Linked DNA regions of Homo sapiens: regions 1 and 2 are each linked to region 3. Evidence: fine-mapped expression QTL. A gene starts in region 3. Each other region holds a variant in brackets. All regions are shown on one strand. Distances are between the middles of the regions.

What was found. PIP is the estimated chance that this variant, and not a neighbour inherited with it, causes the effect.
Region 1: its variant is fine-mapped to the expression of ARHGAP8 in esophagus mucosa (GTEx, PIP above 0.99). The same link has a PIP of 0.9 or more in lung, pancreas, prefrontal cortex, prostate, stomach and subcutaneous fat.
Region 2: its variant is fine-mapped to the expression of ARHGAP8 in thyroid (GTEx, PIP above 0.99).

What each region holds. Positions count from the first base shown.
Region 1 is chr22:44,857,197-44,863,412 of GRCh38, reverse strand. It overlaps PRR5-ARHGAP8 (PRR5-ARHGAP8 readthrough), which reads right to left. Exons shown (of 15, transcript NM_181334.6): 14 at 3,579-3,682; 15 at 629-1,138. The coding sequence ends at 818. It overlaps ARHGAP8 (Rho GTPase activating protein 8), which reads right to left. Exons shown (of 12, transcript NM_181335.3): 11 at 3,579-3,682; 12 at 629-1,138. The coding sequence ends at 818. LOC105373062 (a long non-coding RNA gene) reads left to right here. Exons shown (of 4, transcript XR_938302.3): 3 at 202-425; 4 at 3,930-3,957. Among named protein-coding and RNA genes, the nearest start is that of ARHGAP8, 110 kb to the right of the region's middle. RefSeq lists an enhancer at 3,365-4,059. The variant C/G (reference allele first, on the strand shown) is at 3,713.
Region 2 is chr22:44,848,144-44,854,359 of GRCh38, reverse strand. PRR5-ARHGAP8 (PRR5-ARHGAP8 readthrough) reads right to left here. Exons shown (of 15, transcript NM_181334.6): 13 at 5,300-5,428. It overlaps ARHGAP8 (Rho GTPase activating protein 8), which reads right to left. Exons shown (of 12, transcript NM_181335.3): 10 at 5,300-5,428. Among named protein-coding and RNA genes, the nearest start is that of ARHGAP8, 99 kb to the right of the region's middle. The variant G/A (reference allele first, on the strand shown) is at 3,025.
Region 3 is chr22:44,749,240-44,755,455 of GRCh38, reverse strand. ARHGAP8 (Rho GTPase activating protein 8) reads right to left here and starts at 2,881. Exons shown (of 12, transcript NM_181335.3): 1 at 2,829-2,881. All of the region lies in intron 4 of PRR5-ARHGAP8 (PRR5-ARHGAP8 readthrough), which reads right to left.

The DNA of each region.
Region 1 (6,216 bases), 110 kb before region 3:
CTGGGGCTTTTTTGCTGGGACTGTGGCACTAAGAAGTTGTATCCTTCTCTACCATATCTGATGGAAATACAGGGCCCGTTTTGCCAGCCCAAGAGTCAGCCTGCCTGAGACTGCAGAGTCCTGTCGCACCCCAGAGCCCTCGGGCAGCTTGGCTGCTTTATGCCCAATTCTTCACCCTCCCCATATCCACCCCCTTTGCAGGGCCCTCCCTCTGTGACCCTGGCCTTGGCCACCAGGCTTGCTTTGGCCAATGAGATGTGAGCATACAGGACGCCAGTCAAAGCATGAAAACTGCTTGCAATAGCGCTTGTGTGTGCACCTGGACCTATGTTGTAAGAATGTGCCCCGTTTGGCCATTGGAAGGACTTGGGACACCTGGGGGAGAACAGAGTCACCCCAGCTGCCAGCCAGCTCAGCCAGGACATGTAAGTGACCCCCTCAAAAGACCAATAGAACCACCCAGCTGACCCACTGACTCCTGGGCAGTAACTTTCAGTGACTGGGCTTAGGTGGTGTGTTACACAGCAGTGTGGCAGCAGCAGGACCTGGCAGCCGTTAGCCACTCCATTCCTGTTTTCAGTTAAACCACATTGGGTTGGGATTCAAAACATCCATCCTAACAAATGCATTATTCTATCCCGGTCCACAGCTCAGGAACCATGGACAAGAGTCCAAGGACCAGAGGCATGGAGTTTTCATTAGAAGGTTCTGAATTCATCTAATGGCTGGTTATTTTTACAGATGCCAAGTTTACAAAACATACAAGTGCACAGACAGGTGTGGGAGGTAGCTCGAAATATACAGAGTGTTCGCAACACTAGAGACGTCTTCTGGCTGCCATCAGGGGACTCGGAGGTAGGGTAGGCTTGGTGAGGCCCGTGGCTTGTGTCCGTGGCACAGCCTCCTGCAAAGGGGCTGCCCTGCTCCCCTGTTCCCATGGTGCCAGGCCGTGCTCCCCAGGTGCCTCCGGGGTGCTGAAGATCTTTTCATAGTACTCGATCAGCAGTTCAGTGAACATGTTCAGGGGCACAAGGGCACTCAGGGAGGAGACCCCCTGGGATGGCCAGATCAAATTCAGCCCGAAGACACAGGCCAGGTTAGAGCTGTTCATTTTGTTGAAGATGCTCTCCCGGGACACCTGGAGGAAACCACACACAAGTAAAGGGGAGTGAACACCAAGGGGCACGGGCACCTGGAACTCCCTCCCGAACTTAGGGAGAGGCGTAGGTGTAGTGAGAGGAGCACTGGACTGGGAGCCGGCAGCCAGTAATGGGGACCCTGTGCAGCCACCTGCCCACTCAGGGCCTTAGTTACCCTATCTCTAAAAGGAAGGCTTGGCCTCCATGTCCTGGAGGACCCTCTGGCTCTGACCTTCTGTGACAGCCTCAACCCCCCACTATCTCCTCTTCCACTGCACCTTCTGGGGAGATGCAATCTTGGGGATGGGCTGTAGCACAGACGGTACGAACTTGGTGACCTCTCTGGCCTCGGCTCTGTGAGTGGCGAACTGGGCATGATGGGGACCAGCCAGCACATCTAGGGGCCACTACGAGGGGCAGGGAGAGTGGAAAGAGCTTGCCTGCTAGAAGGGGCTCCTTGTCCATCTCCGCCAACACGTGCAACCCCAGCACGGGGGAGTCATTACTCCCCATCTTACAGATGAGGAATCTGGGGCCTGGAAGGTACAGGAGACTTGCCCAAGGTCATGTGGCCAGCCAGTGGCAGGGGGCCATGTGGACCAACGTGAGGGCAGGGCCTGTTCTCTGCTCCTTGCCTCCCTACAAGATTCAAGCTGGGGGGAACCTCAGTCAGAAACAGGGGTCATGAGGCGGTGAGTACCAGGGCAGAGCAGAGAACTGGAGGGAGGCAGGGCCAGGCACCACCCTCACAGATCTGTTGAGGATGCTCAGGTGAGATGGCTGGATGCCTTTCAGGCTCCCCCTGGCTGCCGGTCCCCCAAGCCCGTTGCAGGTGTGCACCAGCCAGGCCCACTGCAGGCCACCCCTCCTCAAGCCGAGGCCCCCAGGTGCCACTGGGGTGATAACACGCAACACCACACCCCACCAGGTGCATTCACATCGGTGCCCATGGAGGTGGCGGCTAGAGAGAGAAATCAGTCTCTCCTAATGAAAAAGAAGTAGGCTGGGTGCAGTGGCTCACACCTGTAATCCCAGCACTCTTAAGAGGCCGAGGCAGGTGGATCACCTGAGGTCAGGAGTTCAAGATCAGCCTGGCCAATGTGACGAAACCCCATCTCTACTAAAAAAACAAAAATTAGCCGGGCATGGTGGTTCTCACCTGTAATCCCAGCTACGTGGGAGGCTGGGGTTGCAGTGAGCTGAGATTGCACCAGTGCACACCAGCTAGGGCAACAGAGCAAGACTGTCTCAAAAAATTTTTTTGAGAGAATTAGGAGAGTTTAGTTTTGGGCCTCTGAGAAATTATGTCAAGCAACAGGGAGAAAAAAAATTGTTGTAAAACCAAGAAGTGACATTCTCCAACAGACTCTGGGATGTGACGCCTACTCTGCTCAGGCTCTCCTCACCCTGCACAGCCTGGGGCGAAGGCCTGGAGAGATGGAGGGGGTTAAACATTCAAGGCCGTGGGTCTGGGGGTTGGGGGTGGACCCACGTGGATGTGTTGAACCTTCCCCTGTTGGCTGCACAGGTTTTTGCTCCAAATGGATCCCTGCCCCAGGGGGAGAGCACACTAAGCCCAGGCCCAGAGCACTGAAGGGTTTCTCTCTCTCTGGTCATTTGCTTAGCCTGGTGTGTAGTAGATTGAATGGTGGCCCCTCTAAGATAGACCACAGAGAATCTGACTGTGACCTTATTTGGAACGAGGGCCGTTGCAGCTGTCGTTGAGGATCTCAAGATGAGATCATCCCGCGTCATCTGGGTGGGTCCTAAACCCAGTGACATATGGCAGGGGGTCCACACTTAGGAGGGAAAGGTGGAGGGAGATTAGACACACACACAGACAAAGGCCAGGGGGGAGCTGGAGGCATAGCTGGAGTGACCAGGAGCTGGGAGAGGCCAGGAAGGGGAACCTTCCCTAGAGCCTCTGGAAGGAGCACAGCCCGCCACACCTTGCTTTTGGACTGCTAGCCTCTAGAAGAGTGACACAGTAAATCTGTTTTAAGGCACCCACGATGCAGTCACAGGAACTTAATGTACGTGGTTCTGGGTGTATCCCTTCCCCAGGAATGGTCAGCTCAGTCCACTGGGCTCTGTACCAGTGGTGGACACAGCTCCCACCTCCTAGAGACTCAGCCCAAGCAGGAAATGACATGGGGGCAGAGGACCCCAATAACAAAAGTCACTGGCAATGGCTGAGGGACAGCAGGTACAGGAGCAGGCAGGGGCAGGTACGCCCTGTCTGACAGGCAGGAGGTCCGCAGCAGCATGGGTGCCTGACCAGGCCTTGGATGAGGTCCTTGGGGGGCAGGGAGTGGTATTCCGAGGCCCAAGCAGGGCATGACCCCAGACCCAGGGCAAGGAGGGGACTGGTCCATGCGGGCCCAGCATGGGAGGGAAGGCCACTGGGCTTCACCCCAAGCTCCCCCCTTCCCCACTCACCGCATGCAGGAAGCCCATGAGGTAGCGGAGGACGACGTAGTTGTGCTCTGGGAGGCTCCGTAAGATCTGGCGGCAGCCAGTGACACGCAGGCTGCTCTCCACACCTGGAAGGGCATGGGGCTCCCTGCTGAGCT[C/G]CAGAGGGGCCAGGGGCAGCGCTGCATCCCGGCCCGGGAGGAGAACAGGGGTGTAGGAAGGACAGCTCTGAGGATGGACTATCCCACATTTGGGCTTGGGACCCCCACTTATCTTCTGGCCGTATGGCTCTGCTCAGCAAACCTGTGTGTTTGGCTATTCTTGCTGAGATGGGGTTATTTATAAGAAAAGAGGTTTAACTGGCTCATGGTTCTACAGGCTGTACAAGCATGGCACCAGCACCTGTTCAGCTTCTGGAGAAGCCTCAGGAGGCTTCCAATTATGGCAGAAGGCAAAAAGGAAGGAGGTGCATCACGTGGCAAAAACAGGAGCAAGAGAGAGTGGGACAGAGGTGCCACATGCTTTTAAACCAGATCTGGTAAGAACTCACTATCTCGAGGACAGCACCAACCCATGAGGTATCTGCCCTCATGATCCAATCACCTGCCACCAGTCCCCACCTCCAAAGTTTCAATTCAACATGAGACGCGCTGGGGACTCAGATCCAAGCCCTATCATCACCTGAATTCTACAAGCTCCATCCCTCTGCTTTATCAGCCAGCAGCACCACCTTCCAGGAAGCTGCTAAAGCCGAATCACTTTATAAATGGGAGTGGTCTAGACCAGGGGTTGGCAAACTACGGCCCATGGCTTAGATCTGGCCCACTGCCTGTTTTTGCCAATAACGTTTTCTTGGAACACAGCCACGGACATTTTGTACATTGCCTGTGGCTGCTTTTGCCTCATCAGGGCAGAGCTGAGTAGTTGCAACAGAGACTACAAGGCCCACAAAGCCTAACATATTTACTATCTGGCCTTTTACAGAAAAAGTTTGCAACCCTGCTCTAGACGAACTGCCTGCTCAGGATTCTCAGCACCACAAATCGCCCACACTTTGTTGCTCTTGGAAAGGCAGTGTCCCACCCTCCAGGGGCCTGATGCAACTGGCCCCCACTCTGAGACCCCCCAGTTACCCTTATAACCACATCTACCACTGGAGCTCCATAGCCTTCCAGTCAAAACCCACCAACCAGCCAGGCACAGTGGCTCATGCCTGTAATCCCAACACTTTGGGAGGCCGAGGCAGGCACATCACTTGAGGTCAGGAGTGCGAGACCAGCCTGACCCAACATGGTGAAACCCTGTTACTTAAAAAAAAAAAAAAAAAAGCCGGGTATGGTGGCACACACCTGTAATCCCAGAGCTACATGGGAGGCTGAAGCTGGAGAATTGCTTGAACTCAGAAGACAGAGGCTGCACTGAGCCGAGATGGTGCCATTGCACTCCAGCCTGGGCAACAAGAGTGAAACTCCATCTCAAAAAAAAAAAAAAACCACCACCAACCAACAAGTATTCACCAAGTTCCCGCTGCGGGTGCATGTGTGAACATGTATGCACATGTGTGCACTCAGCCACATGCATGCCTATGCTACTGTGTACCCACATCCTCCAACACACCAATCACCCTCCCACTGAGCCTTGCACAGAGTTGCTGGTGACCACCGGGTGCTCTACAAACACCCACTGCCAGGACACAAGACTCCCCACTATGATCATTCCTGTTGGCTTCTTAATAAAAGCCATTATTCCATGAAATCAAGCTGTTGTTCAGTCATTTGAATGGACAAGGAATTCCCTTGAAATGAGTATTTCAACCGAGCCAGGTGGCTGCCATTTCCTTCTCTGGGTGTTGTGCCTGAACCTTATCTACGAATTATGGTCCCAAGTGGGTACTGGTGCAGGTCACCCTCAGCTCTGTGGTCCCTCTGAGAATACCTGCTGGCAAGTAGGCAGGACTGGTGAGCTGAGCGTCACAACCGCCAATGTCACTGAGCACTCCCTATGAGGGAGCAAGAGGTCAAGCATTTCAACCACCCCAGTGTAGAGAGAGGAGGAAAGAGAGCTCTGAGAGGTTAGGTGACTAGCCCGAGGTCACACAGCTTGCATGTGGGAGGCTGGGCCTCGAGGACTCTCTGACCTCCCCTTTCTCCTCTGGAGCAGGCCATGAGATCATCCTATGAGAGGCGCCTTCCCTATACCCAGAGGGAAGGGGCAAACTCATCTCTGAAGATGGCATGTCCCCCTAGTTTCCTGCCCCAGGCTCACTCCCCTGTCCGTCGCACTTCCCACGCCTCTCCACTCTTCTTCCAACCTGGCATCAGCACACTCAGTGGACTGGATCTCTGGGCCTTCGTTTCCTTACGAAGGTACCCATGTCATGTGCAACTTCTAGTAAATAAACTGGTATGTTTTTCTCTTGTGAATCTGTCTTTTGTTAGTCCAAGCAACAGGGCCCCCACCAAGGAACCTAAGATGGGGAGAAGGAAAAGATTTTGACCCTCCCTGCAGTTTCTAGTCATGGGGATGAGGTACCCTTGGCTGGAACACCTCACTTGGTCTGGGAGCTGCACAGAGAGCCAGGACCCCTGGTAGAGCCGGCCAAAAGAAAGAATTCTTACTCAAGACTGGTCGTGGTGGCTCACACCTATAATACCAGCACTTTCAG
Region 2 (6,216 bases), 99 kb before region 3:
GAGGCTGAGGCAGATGGATCACTTGAGCCCAGGAGGCAGAAGTTGTAATGAGCCAAGATCAGGCCACTGCACTCCAACCTGGGCAACAAAGCAAGACTCCGTCTCAAAAAAAAAAAAAAAAAGATACAAGGGGAATTCCTTGAAATGACAACTAGCCTTATTCAGTGTTATGTATGACGTTACAGTGAGTAAGCAAGGCCGCTTCCTGGCAGGCCCAGGAAACTTAAAATATATTGAGAACCTTGAGAAGAGAGGAATTCTCTCAAATCTACAGATACTGCAGGCAAAGTCTGATGGTTTTTTTTTTTTTTTTTTTTTTTTTTTTTTTTTTTTTTGAGACAGAGTCTCGCTGTGTCCCAGGCTGGAGTGCAATGGTGAGATCTCAGCTCACTGCAACCTCTGCCTCCCGGGTTCAAGCGATCCTCCTGCCTCAGCCTCCCGAGTAGCTGGGATTACAGGTGCATGCCACCATGCCTGGCTAATTCTGTATTTTTAGTAGAGATGGGATTTCTCCATGTTGGTCAGACTGGTCTCAAACTCCCAACCTCAGGTGATCCACCCGCCTTGGTCTCCCAAAGTGCTAGGATTACAGGCGTGAACCACCGCAGCTGGCCCTGATGGCAAATTTTTAACTTGGCTTTCTAGCCTCAAGAGGCTTTTAAAAAGTGAATCTGAGATTCCTTATTAAAAGTTCTAGCAAGGTAGACTTAAAAAGAGCCGACATAGGTCAATTCCCATTCTTGCTGCCCTTATGTAAATAATCAGGCCAAATTCTAATGAAACCAGACTTATTTTGTAACTGAGAATCAAGAGAGAAGCAACGGTACAGAGAAATGATGCTCCCGTGGAAAACTACGGCGCACGCTTGCGGGTTCTCAGTTCCTCTCCTTTCCTCCAATATCTGGCTACGACGCTCCAAGCTAACATTTCCAGTTTTCTCCTACCCCCTGAGTTGGCATGACAAAGAACTAAAACCTGCCATTTCCCCAAAGCCCCAAAAGCTGACGCTGGAAGACTTGATATAAACTTCAGAGAAATCACAGCAGATGATGTACGGATAGTCCTTGTGCCTCCTACTCAGTCTGCTCAGAAAGTTCACCGGAACACCCAGTGCCATCACCAAAGACATCTAAATTGCAAACTATGGAATTCACTGGCCAGCTGCTGCCACTCTCTCTCTACCATGAAAGGATACTTCAAGCCAACATCTAGGAATCTTCTCAACTAAATGTTCTCCTGACTAAAAAAATGGAGTTTAGGCCGGACACGGTGGCTCATGCCTGTAATCCCAGCACTTTGGGAGGCTGAGGTGGGCGGATCACAAGGTCAGGAGATTGAGACCATCCTGGCTGACACAGTGAAATGCTGTCTCTACTAAAAATACAAAAAATTAGCCAGGCGTGGTGACACGGGCCTGTCGTCCCAGCTACTCGGCAGGCTGGGGCAGGAGAAAGGCTTGAACCTGGGAGGTGGAGGTTGCACTGAGCCGAGATCGTGCCACTGCACTCCAGCCTGAGTGAGAGTGAGACTTCACCTCAAAAACAAAACAAACAAACAAAAAACAAAATAAAAAAAATCCCCGGAACTTATGGTTTGTTCAAACCACTGAACTTCATGTTTGTTGACAAAGAAAGGCCCCTTATTAACAGGCTGACTTAGGTAGTCACCCTACTCCCACCTCCACCGCTACCTCCTGAATTGAGACACAACTCTTTCCCTGGAGTGACCTAGTCACAGCACTGAGAGAAGGATTCATGCAACATGAGACAATCTACCAACTCAGTTTCTGGACTGTAAAACTTCCTGGGGAAAGTTCCAGATGGGGGAATGCTGGGGTCCGGAACACTACTGTCCCAAATATGGAGCCTGGGCATGCTGAATATGTTATTGAGCTGAAGGAATCTAAGAAAGGCAGGTGTGGGAAGGGCTCTCTCTGACTCCCCCTACTTCTGTGTAGCAGATCATAAAACCTTCTAATGGGAGGGGGTCTTCCCTATGTCCAGAGGGTGCCTTATCTCTAAAGACGGCGGAATGACAAAAGGAATTGAAGCTCCATGACTTTCCACTCTTCACCAAACCTAGTATCAAAACATTCGGGCTGAACCATGTCTTCACCTTCCTTCACCTTCCTTCCTCCCTTCCTTTTTTTTTTTTTTTTTTTTTTTTTTTTGACAAAGTCTCACTCTGTCGCCCAGGCTGGAGTGCAGCAGTGCGATCTCGGCTCACTACAACCTCTGCCTCCTGGGTTCAAAGCAGTTCTCGTGCCTCAGCCTCCTGAGTAGCTAGGATTACAGGTGTCCACCACCACGCCCAGCTAATTTTTGTATTTTTAGTGGAGACGGGGTTTCACCATGTTGGCCAGGCTGATCTCAAACTCCTGACCTCAGGTGATCCACCCACCTTGGCTTCCCGAAGTGCTGAGTTTACAGGAGTGAGCCACTGCACCCGGCCCATTTTCTTTATTTCTTTTCTTTCTTGCTTGCTTTCCTCCCTCCCTCCCTCCATCATTCCTTCTGTTTTGGGGACATGGTCTTGCTCTTTTGTCCAGGCTGGAGTACAGTGGTGTGATCATGGCTCACTGTAGCCTCCAACTCCCAGGCTCAGGTGATCTCCCACCTCAGCCTCCTGAGCAGCTGGGACTACAGGCATACACTACCAAGCCCAGCCAATTTTTAAAATCTTTTGTAGAGATGGGGTCTCACTATGTTTCCCAGGCTGGACTCAAACTCTTGGACTCAAACTCTTGGACTCAAGTGATCTTTCTGCCTTGGCCTCCCAAAGTGCTGGGATTACAGGCATGAGCCACCATGCCCAGCCTGGGTCTTCATTTTCTTCATTTTCATAAAGGTTCCCATGTCAGGTGGAGGTTGCAGTGTGCCGAGATTATGCCACGGCACTCCAGCCTGGGCGACAGAGCGAGACACTGTCTCAAAAATTAAATAAATAAATAAATAAATAAATAAATATTTAAAAGGCTCCTGTGTCATGTAAAACTTACATTAAATAAACTGGCATGCTTTTCTC[G/A]TGTGAATCTGTCTTTTGTCAGAATAACAAGTTACAGGGTTCCCACCAATGAACCTAAGACGGGTAGCAGGAAAGGATTTTTTCCTTCCCAACAGAGGGTTGCTTAATATGACTACGCTCTCCAGGTTTGTTAATTGGTGCCTATCCGGAAGTGGACAAATGTCTGGTATCTTTATGACCGGAGGCAGTGGTGCAAGCCAGAGCTGGGTCCTTCCCTCCCCGGGGACTGGGAGGCAGAGGTAGCACTTTGAATGTTTTCATTTCAAAGAGATGGCTCTCAGGTCCTTGACATAGCTCTGGGTGGTAGATGATTTTCATCTCAAAGGACAGATAAAGGATTCATAATTGCAAGCTTTTTTTTTTTTTTTTTTTGAGATGGAGTCTTGTTCTGTCACCTAGGCTGCAGTGCAATGGCACGATCCTGGCTCACTACAACCTCTGCCTCCTGGGTTCAAGTCATTCTCCTGCCTCAGCCTCCTGAGTAGCTGGGATTACAGGCGTGCACCACCACGCTTGGCTAATTTTTGTATTTTAGTAGAGACAGGGTTTTGCCATGTTGACCAGGCTGGTCTTGAACTCCTATGACAAGTGATCCACCCAACTCAGCCTCTCAAAGTGCTGGGATTACAGGTGTGAGCCACCATGCCTGGCCCACAATTGCAAGCTTTCTAAAGGAACTGCTGCTCAAAGAGGGGTTCCAGGGCCTATCTCCCTGTCACCAGGTTTTGGCTGGAACAAACAGTAAGTTCGCCTGGCAGCATTGAGTTTTCTCAAGCAGGAACCTACAGAGGCTGGAGTCATCATCCCTCTGCAGGGGCTAATGAAGTTGGGAGGCTTCTGGAAGCTTCTCTCTAGGACACAGCCTGGCGCATTCAGGTGATGGAGCATTGTCCATCTTGCCTGCTCTGGCCCCGGCTGGTAGGATGCTGCTGAATGTAGTGCCTCCTTCTGTCTCCACCAGATAGGTACCTCTATGCGCATGATCAAATTTGTCTCCATGAGGCTCAGCCTGGCTCTGAACTCTCCCAGGCTTCCCATCCACTAGCCAAAGTCAGTCAGCCCTCAACATCTTTCATGGTCTTCCAGGGTGTAGGAGAGACCTTCCCCATCTCAGAAAGGGCGTTGCATTTGGCAGGCGCTTAGGAGCACTGCTGAGTAAATGGGTGTAAATTTGCCTTTGAGGGGAGTTTGGGGTCCAGCGACCTTGACAGGACGCCTTGAGACTGAAATCAGTCTCCAGCCCCATGCCCTCCCCAGAGGTCAGGCTGGTCTCACATCACTCAAAGCCCGCACCCTCTAACCATGTAATTGGTCTTTCTGGAATGGCCACCCCTACACCCCTATCTTGAGTCACACCATAACCATGAGTTACCATAAACCATCAGGGCCCCTGATGAGTGACAAAGGTAACTCCTGCCCCTTGGGAAAGTGCAAGGTTCAGAAGTCACCCCCCAGGGGCCAGGACAAAGGCCAGGCTGCCCTTTGGGCAAATGTGATTCTTGAATACACAGTGGGGTAGAAACATTGATTTTAAGATTCAAGATTTGTCTTTACGATATCTTAACCGAGCTGCTTCAGAATTCACACCAAAATCAGCTCCCCCCTTCGACTGTTAGTGCTCCAAGAAGAAAGGAGGGCGCTGGAGGTAGTCCCATTTGAAAAGACGGTGTTCGATGACTTAGATGAAGGCCTGAGGGGTTTTATGGTTCTTTCGAGGCATCACTTTCCTTAGCATTCACCAGTGTTTTGAGATGCTGTTACGGAGTTTTTTACGAGTCATCTGTGCTCAGCCACACTGAGCATTTGACCCATCACAAAGCGCCTGTAGGATCAGACACTATAGCTGCTCAGTTCCTGTGATATATGCTTGGCATCCTACAATGATCTGGGGAGAAATGCCGAGAGCCCTTTCTAGATGAGAGAGCTGAGGGTCTGGGGCCTGGGAGCGGTTACAGGCAGGACTTTGACCAGGATGATGAGCCCCAAATCTAGAGAGCCCCCCATCACCCTGCCTCCTGGCCCAGCTGTGCCTGAGAGACCGGCCTGGACAACCCTGACCGACCCCACCTCCTCTGCCTTTGGACAGTGTGGACTGGCTGTGCATGGTGGGGGCAGCCCCAACAACCCCCTCTCTTGCCCTGCAGTGCCAGATGGCAACAGGAGGAGGGTGGGTACACGTCACCTCGGCCACCCCAGAGCCTGACCCTGGGCCAGTAGCTGGGGGACAGCATCTGAGGACCAAGCCCCCCACCCCTGCGCCAGGGCAGCTACGCACAGGTGATCCCGAGAATCTGCTCGTAGGCCTGGAAGGTCAGAAGCGGCTGGGGCAGCTCTCGCAGGAAGGTCTTCAGGATCACGGCAGGGATGTGAATGTCCCCGTAGTCGTCAAAGTTCACGGGCTTCCCTGCACACACAACACAGCACTGCTGAGGTCTGCACCCCGGCCTGGGCACTGCCGCTGCAGAACGAGCTCTGAGACACAGGGCGTGAGATGTCCGGATGGGACGCACCTGATGCTGGAGCCATGTGTCCTAGGGATGATGCTGTCCCCACCTAGAAATGGGTGTGCTCTGGCCCCATCAGCCCCTACACTACCCTAACTGCCTCCTCCCGGGCTCCCAGTGGGGACTGGGGTGGGCTGCTGGCTTCTCTGTGGCATGCTGTTGCTCCCGGCTACAATGCCAGCTCTCTGAGGCCAGGTCTGTGGCAGAGATGACACCGCAGGCCCTGGGCCTGAGACAGGCAGGCCTGAGCTGGGCCCCGTGCAGACCTGATGCTCCATGATTGTGTAATGCACAACTGATGACGGGAGCGAGTGGGAGCGAGGGCAAGTCTTGTCAGCAAGACAGCGCCTTCATTAGCGTCAGTGCAATGCATCCTCAGCTCAGAGGCCACTGCCCCTGCCTGCGGGTTACACATGGCAGTTAAGGAAGCCGTGCTGAGCCAATTCGGGGGAGCTGCCAGATAAAAAAAACCAGCTTCCCTGCACTGCAGGGTGTCTCCTGAAAGCACGTGCCACGTGGTGTGGATGGAGAGACCCTAAAGGCAAAATGGCATCATGCGGCCACCATGTCCCAGTGGGGTTGGGGGTCTGGACAAAAGGTCCCCACTCTGGACTACCAGTGGGCCCCTCGATGCCTCCTGGGAAGCTGCCCCCACCCTGAGTGTTTTCTGGGAGTTGGGTGGGTTGCG
Region 3 (6,216 bases):
AATTAAAGGACCAAGGGGTAAAAGTTAAATAATTTGGAAAGAAATGGAAAACGTCTATTTTCTCTCCCCATGCTAATTTCACATAGATTTGAAGGGTAGTCACCGGCAGGCTCCGAATGGCTCCATCTTACACCAGACACCAGCTCCCATGTGGGAGGCACACCTCAGTGCCCAGGGAGGTGGCTCAGCACAGTGTGTGTGGGAGGAAGGTGGGGACACGGGGAACACTGTAGCTGCAGCACCGCTGGCTTCCAAGCCTGGCTCTCTAATCACTAGCCATGGGACCTTAACCTTCCTTGTCTGTTTCCTCATCTGTGAACGGGGCAGTAACAGTCCGTGCCTCCTGATGTGAGCAAGGAGTCAGGCAGCCAAGTGTGCAGTGAGGGTTTCATGGCCATTTGGTGACCACCATCGCAGTGGGGAAGGACAGCCAATAGCTCCTTTTGCAGATGAGGAGGCTGAGTGCCCCAGAAGGAGAGTGACCTGCCTAAAAACCAGGTCTGCTGACTCCTTCTCCATCTCTTTCTCACCCTCATGCTGCCTGTGCCTCAGTTTCCCTATCAGTGAAATGAGGGTAAAATCAGGGAATGGGATGGGTTTTTTTTAATGTGGTGAAACATACTGTCAGGCACCTCCAGGACCTGAGTTCCTTGCTCTCGTCTCTTTAACCGAAGCCGCCTTTAACTCCATCGTTTACAGTGTGCCCATGAATAGCTCAGCCTAGAACTGGCTTGTTAGGCAGATGGCATGATGTCCCAGGCATGTTTAAGTCAAGTAAGTTTCAATGACTCGGCCGGGTGTGGTGGCTCATGCCTGTAATCCCAGCACTCCAAGCACTTTGGAAGGCCAAGGCAGACAAATCGTCTGAGGTCAGGAGTTTGAGACCAGCCTGCCTAACATGGTGAAACCCCACTTCTACTAAAAATACAAAAATTAGCTGGGTGTGGTGGTGGGCGCCTGTAATCCTAGCTACTCTGGATGCTGAGGCACGAGAAGCACTTGAACCAAGGAGGCAGAGGTTGCAGTGAGCTGAGATCGTGCCATTGCACTCCAGCCTGGGCGACAAGAGCGAAAACTGCGTCACACACACACACACACACACACACACACACACACAAAGTTTCAATGACCCAATGATGTTATCCAAGTAAATTGGCCCACCCCGTCAGGCACTCCATGGACTTTTCCACCCGTACCTCACAAGCGAAGTATCCCTAGCCAGTAGGTGCCATTCTCTTCCCCATCCACCTCCCATCCACCTTCCAGCTCAATGGCCACCTCCTCCAGGAAGCCCTTCCTAAGCTCCCACAAACCCTTGGATTCTCTCTACACAGAAGCCAGACTCTGGGCCCCTGAGGGCAGGGACCAGGCAGCTGGCTGTCCACAAGAATCAGCTGGGCTCAGGCCCACATCCCATGTCCCTCTTCGCCCTACCCCCAACTCTGGCGTTGGTTTGGGGAATGGTTAGTCAGTGAATCGAATGAGGAGTCCACAAACATGATCCTAAAGCTGCCAACAGAGAGGCCAACCAAAGGACATCGACTTCTGAAACGGCTGAGTCTTAAGCATTGAGTTCTCAGCTGGACAAATGCCAACACTGCATTTCACAGGCAAGCGAGGGACGGCACAGAGCTCTCTGGAATCTACACAGCCTCTGTCACAAAACCCTGAAGTCGGTGGCCAAGGTGCTGTCCCCATCCCGCCAAACAATCCCACCCTCCTTCCCGGGTGGACTCTGCGGTTCCTTCTCCGGGGCCTTCACACTCCTCCCAAGGCAGCGGAGAAATTTCCAAGTCAGGGTGTGGCAGAGCCCGAGGGATTCTCAGGAGCCCCCCCACCCCCCACAGGATTGAGGGAAAGTGAAAGGCAGGGCCTCCCTGCCTTCCTGACGACCTCCGAGGCTGCTAGCGGATTGGTTTAAACTTTGGGCTTTTAGGCCGGGCGCGGTGTCTCACGACTGTAATCCCAGCACTTTGGGAGGCCCAGGAAGACGGATCACCTGAGGTCAGGTGGTCGAGACCAGCCTGGACAACATGGTGAAACCCTGTCTGTACTAAAAATACAAAAAATTAGCTGGCATGGTGTCAGTCCCTGTAATCCCAGCTACTCGGGAGGCTGAGGCACAAGAATCGCTTGAACCCAGGAGGCGGAGGTTGCAGTGAGCAGAGATGCAACACTGCAATCCAGCCTGGGGACAGAGCAAGACTCGGTGTCAAAAAAAAAAAAAAAAGTTTCTGCTTTTAACTCCCGGGGGGTTCCACCGCTGTGTGTTGAACCGGCCAGCCCCCCACCCCCTGAGTTTGAATCAGCGCAGCACCTGCCCCGGCCTCCGTTTTCTCATCTATGAAACGGGAATGACCTCACCCACCTTGTAGGTTTGGGGTGTGTGGGGGCGGGGGAGGTGCCTCCCCCAGGCGCTGACCCGACCTAACCTGAGACCCCAGGACGGAAGCAAAAAAGGAACATTTGAGCTGACACCGTCCGGCCAGACCAGACCAAAACGCAGGCTGAGAGAGGCGAGGGCGGGGAAGGCGGTGCGGGGTGAGAAGGAACAGGACAGGGGAAAAAGCAGAGGAGGGGAGTGTGGGGGGGCGGGAAAGAAAGGAGGTGAAGGGAGAGGGAGTCTAGAACCCACAGGGGACCCGGAGGCTGCGCGCCGGCCGGAGGGTCTCCCCCCGGCCGCACGTGGCGTCGCGCCCGCCTGGGCGTCCCTACCCGGCCAGCGGCCCCTTGTCCCCGTACACGCCCTGGGAGCCCCCGCGGCGCACCCCCCCACCCCGAGCACGGCCTCCTCCCTGCGCGCTCCCTCCCGCCGCCGCCCGCCTTACCTGGCCACGGACCCCGCCGGCCCCCACCTGCGTGCCGGGTCTGCCGCTCACCTGGCCCCTCCCCGGACGTGGCTCCCGGGCAGGCCCCGCCCCCCCGCCCCTCCGCCCAGCCCCGCCCCTCCGCCCCTGCTACCCGGCGGGAGCCATTTCCCAGGTGCACGAGCTGACCCTGGGTCCACCTGTGTGTCGGGGGGACAGGGCGGGGTCGGGCGGAGCACACGCGCTCAGGAGCCCCTCGCACATCGCACCCTGGGCACCCCGATTCCCGGCTGGGCCGCGTCCCCGTCCCGCACGGCACCCATGCCTGGGGCGGGCACTTTCTTGCTGATCCATTTCCCCATTTCTTATTTTATTTATTCATTATTTTACTTTATGTATGTATGTATTTATTTATTTATTTTGAGACGGAGTCTCGCGCTGTCGCCCAGGCTGGAGTGCAGTGGCGCGATCTCGGCTTACTGCAGCTTCAACCTCCCGAGTTCAAGCGATCCTCCCACCTCAGCCTTCATAGTAGATGGGATTACAGACGTGCGCCGCCAAGCCCGGCTAAGTTTTGTATTTTTAGTGGAGACCGGGTTTCACCATGTTGGCCAGGCTGGTCTCGAACTCCCAACCTCAAACGATCCTCCCGCCTCCACCTCCCAAAGTGTTGAAATTACAGGCGTGAGCCACTGCGCCGGGCCCCATTTTTAATTTTACTTTTTTGAGACAGGGGTCTCGCTCTGTTCAGGCTGGAGTGCAGTGTCTTGAACTTGGTTCACTGCAGCCTCTACCTCCTGGATTCAGGCGATCCTCCGGCCTCAGCTTCCCGAGTAGCTGGGACCGCAGGTGTGCACCACCATACCCAGCTAATTTTTGTAGTTTTTGTAGAGACAGGAGTCTTGCCATGTTGTCCAGGCTGGTCTGGAACTCCTGGGCTCAAGTGATCCACCCTCCTCAGCCTCTCAAAGTGTTGGGATTACGTGCCTGAGCTACTGCACCTGGCCCCTTTCGTTAGGGGTGTACAAAGCGTGGCAGAACTGGGAGAATTGGAGGGACTTGAGAGGAAATTTTCCCTAGGGTTTGTTGAAGGATTTGTATCTGAGGAAAGCAGCTTAGATACAACAAAATATATCAGGCCCAGAGAAACAGTAGTATAGGACTTCAGTCCAGGTCCCCCTGCAGTGCTTGGGGGGCCATAGTTTTTTGTTTGTTTGTTTGTTTTTTGTTTTTGTTTTTAGAGTCTTGCTTTGTTACCCAGGCTGAGAGTGCAATGGCGCGATCTCAGCTCACTGCAACCTCCACCTCCTGGGTTCAGGCAATTCTCCTGCCTCAGCCTCCCAAGTAGCTGGGATTACAGGGGCCTGCCACCATGTCCAGCTAATTTTTTGTATTTTTGGTAGAGACGGGGTTTCACCATGTTTGCCAGGCTAGTCTTGAACTCCTGACCTCAAGTGATCCACTCACCTCGGCCTCCCAAAGTGCTGGGATTACAGGCATGAGCTACCGCACCCGGCCGTGGGGGCCATGGTTTAAAGGCATTTTGTTCCTGACTCACTGCCTCACCCATTATCTGCATGTTCCTGCAACTTGTGATACAGAGAAAAATGTGTAGCCAATCAACAACTTATTATTTTTATTTTTATTTTAGATTCAAGGGGTACATGTGCAGGTTTGTTAGGGGATATATTGGGTGACACTGAGGTTTGGTTTTCTGTTGATCTCCTTACCCAGGTAGTGAGCACAGTACCCAATAGGAAGTTTTTCAGCCCTTGCCCTACTCCCCCCACCCTTCTGGAGTCCCCAATGTCTTTTGTTCCCATCTTTATATCTGTGGGTACCCAAGGTTTAGCTCCCCCTTAGAAGTGAGACATGTCATATTTGGTTTTCTGTTTCTGCATGAATTCACTTAGGATAATGGCTTCCAGCTGCATCTATGTTGCTGCAAAGGACAAGATTTCATTCTTTTTCATGACTGCATAGTATTCCATGTTGGAAATGTACCACATTTTCTTTATCCAATCCACTATTGATGGGCACCTCAGTTGACCCCATATCTAACCTATAGTGAATAGTGCTGCTATGCACATATGAGTGCAGATGGCTTTTTGGTAGAAAGATTTCTTTTCTTTTGGGTGTGTACCCACTAACGGGATTGCTGGGTTGAAGGGTAGTTCTATTTTAAGTTCTTTGAGAAATCTCCAAGCTGCTTTCCACAGTGGCTGAACTAATTTACATTCCCACCAACAGTGTATAAGTATTCCCCATTCTTTGCAGCCTTGCCAATATCTCCTATTTTTTGACTTTTTAATAACAGCCATTCTGTCCAAAATCAAGATGCTGGCAGAAAAAATAATAATAATAATAGCCATTGACTGATGTGAAATGGTTTCTCCTCGTGGTTTTGATTTGCATTTCTCTGATGATTAGTGATGTTGGGCATTTTTTCATGTTTGTTGGCTGCTTGTATGCGTGTATGTCTTCTTTTGAGAAGTGTCTGTTCATGTCTTTTGTTCTTTGTTTTTTTTGAGACAGAGTCTTGCCCTGTCACCTAGGCTGGAGTGCAGTGGCGCCATCTCGGCTCACTGCAACCTCCTCCCCTGGGTTCAAGCAATTCTCCTGCCTCAGCCTCCCAAGTGGCTGTGATTACAGACACACGGTACCACACTCAGCTAATTTTTGTACTTGTAGTAGAGATGGGGTTTACCATGTTGGCCAGGCTGGTCTCAAACTTCTGACCTCAAGGGATCTGCCTGCCTGGGCCTCCCAAAGCGCTAGGATTACAGGCATGAGCCACCGTGCCTGGCCCCTTGCCCACTTTTTAATAGGATTATTTTATTCTTGTTGATTCATTTAAGTTCCTTATTGTTTCTGTATATTAGTCCTTTGTCAGCTGCATAGTTTGCAAATATTTTCTCTCATTCTATAGATTGTCTGTTTACTCTGTTGATAGTTTCTTTTTGCTATGCAGAAGCTCTTTAGAACAATTTACTTTTTTTTTGTTTGTTTGTTTTTGTTTTTTTTTGAGACAGAGTTTCGCTCTTGTTGCCCAGGCTGGAGTGCAATGGCTCAATCTTGGCTCACTGCAACCTCTGCCTGCCGGGTTCAAGCAATTATCCTGCCTCAGGCTCTCAAGTAGCTGGGATTACAGGCACCCGCCACCATGCTCGGCTAATTTTGTATTTTTAGTAGAGACAGGGTTTCACCATGTTGTCCAGGCTGGTCTTGAACTCCTGACCTCAGGTGATCCACCCACCTTGGCCTCCCAAAGTGCTGGGATTACAGGCATGAGTCACTGCACCTAGCCAATTTATGTTATTTTAATGTAAATTCTTGGTAAACAATTTAGGAACTGCCTCTTCTTTTCCTTCAAAAACCTACTTGTAACTGTTGCTAATCACAGTGAATA